Linked DNA regions of Homo sapiens: region 2 is linked to region 1. Evidence: fine-mapped expression QTL. A gene starts in region 1. The other region holds a variant in brackets. All regions are shown on one strand. Distances are from middle to middle.

Region 1 (4,388 bases):
CGGGCGGATCACGAGGTCAGGAGATTGAGACCATCCTGGCCAACACGGTGAAACCCCGTCTCTACTAAAAATATAAAAAAATTAGCCCGGCGTGGTGGCGGGCGCCTGTGGTCCCAGCTGCTCGGGAGGCTAAGGCAGGAGAATGGCGTGAACCCAGGAGGTGGAGGTTGCAGTGAGCCAAGATGGCGCCACTGCACTCCAGCCTGGGTGACAGAGCGAGACTCCATTTCAAAAAAAAAAAAGAAAATCATATTGGGAAATAAAACTGCCATCTTTGGGTGTTATCTTTTCCACTGGACAGAAACCCTAAGTTAACATATATACATATTCTCAAGAATATTCATAACATATTCTGTAGTATATTTCCCTACACTAGTGGTTTTCAAAGCATGGTCTCAAATGTCACCTGGGAATATAGACACGCAATGCTCAGGCCCCACCTCAGTCCTATTGAGTTAGAAACTCTGGTGTGAGGCCCAGCAGCCGGTTTCACAAGCCCTGCAGGTGATGATGATGCACTCTAATGTGTGAGAACCACGGCTCTAAATAGTCAAATCATCTTTTTTTTTTTTTTTTTTTTGAGACGGAGTCTCACACTGTTGCCCAAGCTGACTGAAATGCAGCGGTGCAATCTCGGCTCACTGCAGCCTCCACCTCCCGCGTTCAAGCGATTCTCATGCCTCAGCCTCCTGACTGGCTGGGATTACAGGCACCCACTACCACACCCTGCTAATTTTTTTTGTTTTTTTTCAGTAGAGACAGGTTTTGCCATGTTAGCCAGGCCACCGCTCTCGAACTCCTGACCTCAGGTGATCTGCCTGCCTCGGCCTCCCAAAGTGCTAGGATTACAGGCATGAGCCACCGTGCCCAGCCTTTATTTATTTATTTATTTATTTATTTATTTATTTTTATTTTATTTTATTTTTCTGAGATGGTCTCCTTCTGTTGCTCAGGATGGATGGAGTACAGTGGTGCCATCATGGTTCACTGCAGCCTCCACCTCCCAGGCTCAAGAGATCCTCTGACCTCAGCCTCTTAGGTAGCTGGGACAACACGTGTGCACCAGGACAAGCGGGTAATTTTTTGTAGAGACTGGGGTCTCCCTATGTTGCACAAGCTGGTCTAGAACTCCTGGGCTCAAGCGATCCACCGGCCTTGGCCTACCAAAGTGCTATGATTAAAGGTCTTAACATTCTTAAAAAATTTTTTTGACATGGTTTAGGATAGTCTAGTAACTTAACGTACTGTTGTTTTCAACAGGCTAGTGGTTATGATTTGTAAAAGAACTCTTCAGAAATGAGCTCAATTTTACCATGAATTGGGGACACTTTACATTTCTATTTTATAGTGCAGTTTAATTGTCATGGGCTCTGTCTTTTAAAAACCTGAAAGCCTGCAACAATAAAACCAGCTGCACCTGTTGCATGGGATAGGCATGGAATTGAGGAGAGAGCTCAAACTACAGTCAGCCCTCTGTATCCTGAGGTTCTGGATCCTTGGATTTAACCAACTGTGCATCGAAAATATTTGGAAAAAGTAAAACAATAAAAAAACACAGGTCGGGTGCAGTGGCGGGCGCCTGTAGTCCCAGCTACTCGGGAGGCTGAGGCAGGAGAATGGCGTGAACCCGGGTGGCAGAGCTGGCAGCGAGTGGAGATCGCGCCACTGCACTCCAGCCTGGGCAACAGAGCAAGACTCCGTCTCAAAAAAAAAAATTAAAAAACTTTATAACAGCTATTTACAAAGCATTTACGTTGTATTAGGTATTATAGTAATCTAGAGATGATTTAAAGTATACGGAAGGATGTGCACAGGTTATTTGCAAATACTATGCCATATTATATCAGGGACTTGAGTATCTGTGAATTTTGGTATCTCTGGGGTCCTGGAACCAACATCCTGAGGTTACCAAAGGACGACTGTATTCAATTTTGTCTCTGGTTATTAGTCTATTCTCAAATGTATTTTTCTTGTTGTTTTGTCTTTTTGTTTTTGCCTCTTCAAGTCAATGTCGGAAACTTAGTTGTTCTAGACTACCCATTAGCTCAGAGCTACCAGTAATCAGACTACCACTGCAACCTAAGCAACCGATTTTTCTTCCCCATCAGACTGGCAAAAATTAAGATAAGCATCTATTGATGTTGAAGCTGTAGGGAGTTTTCCTGAGCAAGTAATTATGACAGCCCTTTTTGCTAGGCACCTAGATGATTCATCAAAATGAAATAAAATACCCATGCACTTGAAGAAGTTATCTGGTTTATTTCCTTACCTGGGTGCTGGTTATGTGAGGTGTACAGTTGATGAAAACTTATTAAGCTTTATAATAGGTACAATTTTCTGTATGTGTAGTAGACGTCAATAGTTTTTAAAATGTCTTTTGCCACAGCCCGCAGCTGTGAATAATGCTATTCGCTTAACAGTGGAAAACGTGTCAATGACCTGAAACACCCTGGCTCCCGGGATCCTACCCCCTTAAGTTAAACAAATGAAATAACTTCCACTGTCTTTCCTAATGTCTTAATTCGGTCCTCAGTTAAACTGGCGGTTGGCGCCAGTTTTTTCCAGGGAAGGATTCTGGGAGACGGAGGAGGAGACGCCAGCATTTCGCCCCCTGCACCTCCAGCGGGCTGCGGTCCGCTCCCGGCCTCACTCGAGCAGGCCCCGCCCTCCCAGAGGCAGTTAGTCCAAGTCACGTGATCGTCGACTCAGCTGACCCTGCGGGACCGGAAAAAGAAATTCCCGGGCCCTGGCTTCTTGGCGCGATGGTGAGGCACTAGGGGCGAAGCGAGGCTTGGGCTGCTGGAGCGGGAATGAGGGGGCGCCAAGTGGCTCCGGAAACTGGGGGAGGTTGTACTGGCCTCTCCGCAAACACAGTGTGTGCGGGCGTGAGGGCTGTGAGTCTGGTAGGGAAAAGTCCACCACTCTCCCGCTCCCGAGACGGGGGCGGGGGTACGGGGCGGGTAAGACAGAGCAGGCCGGCCGGCTTAGAGTCCCGGTGCTTCCCTGGCGGAAGGAAGGGCCCCTGCCTCCCGGGGCAGGAACTAGGGCTTGTCTGGAGCTGGGAGTCCTTTCAGGTCTTCCCCATCCCCAAGAGGACCTCCCAAGGATACCCCCTTCCCCAGCCCTGCCGTGGGGCTTGTACAAGAAGGTGCTTAGAATCAGGCTCACTCTTCCACACTGTTAGGAAGCCCCTCCGCTCTTTCCAGAGCCAGAAAGTAGTAGTTTTGGGGTTGAGACTTATCCATCCATCCATCCAATCCATCCATCCGTACGTTCTAAGCGCCTGGTCTATACCATGAAGTGTGCTAGGCACTGGGAGGACTTGAGCTGCCAAGGGAAGGGGAAATCGGAGGCTTGAATTGGAGTCATAGCTAAGGCTCCAGGGGCAGAGACCTAACTGCGCCTTGTGTGTAGTGCTAAGGGGGCTTCCTAAGGATGCCATCAAACTTAAAGGCGGATGGATGGCAGGAGCTGGCTGGCTGAAGTACAGTTTGTGTACCAGGGGTAGGGAGGCAAGGGTGGGAGACGTGTGTCTTCAGACAGGGAACAGCATGTGCAGAGACTTCAGGTTAGAGAGAGTATGGCTCCCCAGGAATGGATGCATTTCCCATAGCTGGGAGAGTATCATCTGCAGGTTAGGGAAAGATGAGGCTGGACAAGTAGAGAACAAATCTTCCTGGCTCTTGGATCACCACAATCAAGATAATGAACGTATCCACTGGCCTCCATAATTTCCTTGTGTGAGGGGCTATTTTAAGAAGTATAATCAAGAAAGGCTGTTCTGGCTGGGTGCGGTGGCTCATGCCTGTAATCCTAGCACTTTGGGAGAGTGAAGAGGGTGGATCACCTGAGGTCAGGAGTTCGAGACCAGCATGGCCATGGCACTCCAGCCTGGGCAACAGAGGGAGACTCTGTCTTATTTTTTTATTTTTTAAAAAAAGAAGGGCTGGTCTGATGTGTCACTTAAAGGATAGCAAGCCACTGGCCAGGCGCCGTGGCTCACGCCTGTAATCCCAGCACTTTGGGAGGCTGAGGGGGACGGATCACTTGAGGTCAGGAGTTCAAGACCAGCCTGGCTAACATAGTGAAACTCTGTCTCTACTAAAAATACAAAATTAGCCGAGTGTGGTGGCACATGCCTGTAATCCCAGCTACTTGGGAGGCTGAGGCAGGAGAATCACTTGAACCTGGGAAGCGGAGGTTGCAGTGAGCCGAGGTCGCGCCATTGCACTCCAGCCTGGGGAACAAGAGTGAAACTGTCTCAAAAAAAAAAAAAAAAGGATAGCAAGCCACACAGAGAGTGCAGCAGGCATGGAGGCGGGAGCAAGGCTGGTGTGCCCCAGCAGCAGCAGGGAAGCTGGAGTGGCTGGAGTTGTGTGGGTATGGGG
Region 2 (4,388 bases), 200 kb after region 1:
TTACAATTTTCTTTTAGAAATACTAGTGATTGCAGGCCAGGCATGGTGGCTCACACCTGTAATCCCAGCACTTTGGGAGGCCAAGGCAGGCGGATCACCTGAGGTCAGGAATTCGAGACCAGCCTGACCAATATGGCAAAACTCCGTCTCTACTAAAAATACAAAACTTAGCTGGGCATGGTGGTGGGCGCCTGTAATCCCAACTACTCAGGAGGCTGAGGCAAGAGAATTGCTTGAATCCAGGAGGCTGAGGTTGCAGTGAGCCGAGATCATGCCATTGCACTCCAGCCTGGGTGACACAGTGAGACTCCGTCTCAAAAAAAAAAAAAAAAAAAAACTAGTGATTGCTGAAAATCAAATAAATGGTGATCTAAACAAAAACAAGAGGAATCGTCAAATATCTTCCCTAAAAAAAAAAAAAAAAAAAAAAAAAAAAGGCCAGGCTCGGTGGCTCACGCCTGTAATCCCAGCACTTTGGGAGGCTTAGGTGGGTGGACCATGAGGTTAAGAGATCAAGACCATCCTGGCCAACACGGTGAAACCCCCACCTCTATTAAAAATGCAAAAAACTTAGCTGGGCGTGGTGGTGCGCACCTGTAGTCCCAGCTACTCGGGAGGCTGAGGCAGGAGAATCACTTGAACTCAGGAGGCGGAGGTTGCAGTGAGCCGAGATGGTGCCACTGCACTCCAGCAGGGCAACAGAGGGAGACTCCATCTCAAAAAAAAAAAAAAAAAAAAAAAGGCCAGGCGTGGTGGCTCACACCTGTAATCCCAGCACTTTGGGAGGCCAAGGCAGGCGGATCACCTGAGGTCAGGCGTTCAAGACCAGCCTGGCCAACATAGTGAAACCCTGTCTCTTCTAAAAATACAAAAATTAGCTGTGTGTGGTGGTGCCTGCCTGTAATCCCAGCTACTCAGGAGGCTGAGGCAGGAGAATCACTTGAACCCAGGAGGCAGAGGTTGCAGTGAGCCAAGATTGTGCCACTGTACTCCAGCCTGGGAGAGAGAGCAAGACTTTGTCTCGAAACAAAACAAAACAAAACAAAACACACACACACACAAAGCTTCACAGTAAAGATAGCTCTCACATTACAGGCTTCTCCGAGGAATGTAAAGACTTGGTTTAACATCAGGAGATCTATCAAAGCAATTTTTATGTTAACAGGAAAGGAAAAAAAAGTATATAACCTTCTCAACAGATGCTGAAAATGCACTGCGTAAAATCCATCACACATAGGCCCCGTAATTTTTTTCTATTAAAGATGAGAAGGCCAGCAGGTACCTGCTATTACCACCACTATGTAACATTGCACTGAAGGTCATACCTAACAGAAGCCAAAAGATGCGTAACAACCTGATGCAAAAAGACAGGAATTTTAGGCCAGGTGTGGTGGCTCCAATCTATAATCCCAGCACTCTGGGAGGCCGAAGTGGGCAGACTGCTTGATCTCAGGAGTTCGTGACCAGCCTGAGGAACATGACAAAACCCCGTCTCTACAAAAAATACAAAAATTCGCCCAGCATGATGGCACACGCCTACAGTCCCACAAGTGGGAGGATCACTTAAGCCCGGGAGGCAGAGGCTGCAGTGAGCTGAAACTGTACCACTGCATGGCCCCCCAGCCTGGGTGACACAGCCAGACCCTGTCTCAAAAAAAAAAAGGAATGTTAAAGAAGAGAATAAAATTCAGAAACCACACAGTGTATATCTAAGTATACAGTATATGAAACAAGTAATATGACTATTAGTAAGCAAAAAGTATTATAGGAATTTAGATATGCACATAAATATTTGTAGGATACACAAAAAACTGGTAATAATGGTCACCTCTGGGGAGAGAAAATGAACTGGGGCTGGGTGTAATGCTTCACACCTGTAACCCCAACACTTTGTGAGGCTGAGGCAGGAGGATCACTTGAATCCAGTAGTTCCAGACCAGCCTAGGCAACAAAGCAAGACCCAGTCTCTATAAAAAAAATAAAAAAGAAAGAAAGAAAGAAAGAAAGAAAATGAACTGGGAAACAGCATTGGAAGATAACTATAAGCAACCTTTAAAAAA[T/A]TTTTTTTTGGCCGGGCGTGGTGGCTCACGCCTGTAATCTCAGGTGTTTCACCATTTTGGCCAGGATGGTCTTGATCTCTCGACCTCATGATCCGCCCGCCTTGGCCTCCCAAAGTGCTGGGATTATAGGCGTGAGCCACTGTGCCCGGCCAGTGATTTATCTTTAGTAAACAAATTACATTTACTATCTTCTCTCTGAAGGAAGTTGGTATTTAGAAGATTTTTTTTTTTTTTTTGAGATGGAGTCTCGCACTGCCACCCAGGCTGGAGTGCAATCGCACAATCTTGGCTCACTGCAACCTCTGCCTCCCAAGTTCAAGTGATTCTCCTGCCTCAGCCTCCCAAGAAGCTGGGATTACAGGCGTACCTGCCTACTTTTTGTGTGTGTTTTTAGTAGAGACGGGGTTTCACTACGTTGGCCAGACTGGTCTCGAACTCCTGACCTCATGATCCGCCCGCCTCAGCCTCCCAAAGTGCTGGGATTACAGGCATGAGCCACCGCGCCCAGCCTAGTAGAGAAGATTTAATTGGAGGACCACGAAGGTAGAAATGTTCACCCATTTGAATATGTGAACTTTTTTATTGTTGTTTTTTGAGATAGAATCTCCCTCTGTCACCCAGGCTGGAGTGCAGCGGTGTGATCTCGGCTCACTGCAACCTTGGCCTCCCAGGTTCAAGTGATTCTTCTGCCTCAGCCTCCTGAGTAGCTGGGATTACAGGCGCGCACCACCACGCCAGGCTAACTTTGTATTTTTAGTGGAGACGGGGTTTCACCATGTTGGCCAGGCTGGTCTCGAACTCCTGGCCTCAAGTAATCCGCCTCAAGCAACTCCCCTGACCTCCCAAAGTGCTGCGATTATAGGCAAGAGCCGCCACGTCTGGCCTGAATGTGTGAACTTCTAAATTATATGTCACGTTTTATTTATTAGGAAGTGTGAAGTATAGAATTCCTTATGGCTAAGACCTATAAAGGTATCATTAAAAAATTTAAAGACATAAAATACCCCTCAGTTTCTCTGCCTTTTTGAAGGAAAGCATCAGAAATAAAAAACAAAAGTGAAACTGACTTTTACAAAAGTTTAGTCCATTGAGATAGAGCAAATAAATAGGCACAATGAAAGAAAAGGGAATAGAGTCAACTAAGTTTGAGTGCACTGTAAATACTTTTTTAAAAATAATGTGTGGCCGGGCATGTTGGCTCACGCCTGTAATCCTAGCACTTTGGGAAGACAAGGCAGGTGGATCTCAAGAGTTCGAGACCAGCCTGGCCAACATGGCAAAACTCTGTCTCTACTAAAAATACAAAAATTAGCCAGACGTGGTGGCACATGCCTGTAATCCCAGCCATTCAGGAGGCTGAAGCAGGAGAATCGCTTAAACCCAGGAGGTGGAGGTTGCAGTGAGCTGAGATCGCACCAGCCTGGGTGACAGAGCAAGACTCTGTCTCTAAAAAAAAAAAAAAAAAAAGAAAGAAAGAAAGAAAGAAAGAAAAATGTGAATCAGGTCTGATTGGAAGCACTACTTCTGCTGCCTTCCTGTTTGTACTTTTCAGTTGCTGCAAGAATGATCCAGGCGGCTGCTAGGTGAGGTGACACATAATTCCAGCATTTTGGGAGGCTGAGGTGGGAGGATTCCTTGAGACCAGCATGGATAACATAGTGAGATCCTGTCTCTATTTAAAACAAAAAAAGGATGATCCAGGTGGGACGAGATGACTCATGCCCGTAATCCAAGCACTTTGGGAAGCTGAGGTGGGAGGATCGCTTGAGCCCAGGAGTTTGAGACCAGCCTGGGCAACACAGGGAAACCTCGTCTCTAAAAAAAAAATTAAAAATTAGCCAGGTGTGGTGGTGCACACCTGTAGTCCCAGGTACTCAGGAGGCTGAGGTAGGAGGATCACTTGAGCCTAGGAGGTCCAGGCTGCAGTGAGCTGTGATCACACCACTGCACTTCAGCCTGGGTAACAGTGAAACCCTGTCTCAAAAAATAAAAAAATAAAAAATAAAAAAAAAGAGACAGGATCTTGCTCTTGCCCAGGCTTGAGTGCAGTGGCATGATCATAGCTCAGTGTAACCTTGAAGTCCTAGGCTCAAATGATTCTCCTGCCCCAGCCTCCCTAGTAGCTGGAACTACAGGTGTGTGCCACCACATCTGGCTACTTTTTTAATTTTTGTAGAGATAGGGTCTCACCAGCCGAGACTGGTGTCGCACTCCTGGCCTCCAGTGATCTTCCCCCATTAGCCTACTGAAGCGCTGGGATTACAGGCATGATCCACCACACCTGCCCTCATTTTATTATTATTATTATTAATTAATTAATTAATTTTT

Which allele goes with the higher level. Alleles are on the strand shown, and positions count from the first base shown. SD is a standard deviation of normalised expression in the study named.
As copies of A replace T in region 2, the expression in monocytes of the gene that starts at base 2,736 in region 1 goes down (large effect, 1.3 SD a copy in CEDAR).

The links. PIP is the estimated chance that this variant, and not a neighbour inherited with it, causes the effect. A credible set is the group of variants that fine-mapping cannot tell apart.
Region 2: its variant is the best candidate, but not a certain one, in a credible set for the expression of COMMD4 in monocytes (CEDAR, PIP 0.54).

The regions. Positions count from the first base shown.
Region 1 is chr15:75,333,328-75,337,715 of GRCh38, forward strand. COMMD4 (COMM domain containing 4) reads left to right here and starts at 2,736. Exons shown (of 8, transcript NM_017828.5): 1 at 2,736-2,765. The coding sequence starts at 2,763. RefSeq lists enhancers at 2,570-2,619, 2,960-3,129.
Region 2 is chr15:75,537,036-75,541,423 of GRCh38, forward strand. All of the region lies in intron 1 of PTPN9 (protein tyrosine phosphatase non-receptor type 9), which reads right to left. Among named protein-coding and RNA genes, the nearest start is that of PTPN9, 40 kb to the right of the region's middle. The variant T/A (reference allele first, on the strand shown) is at 2,061.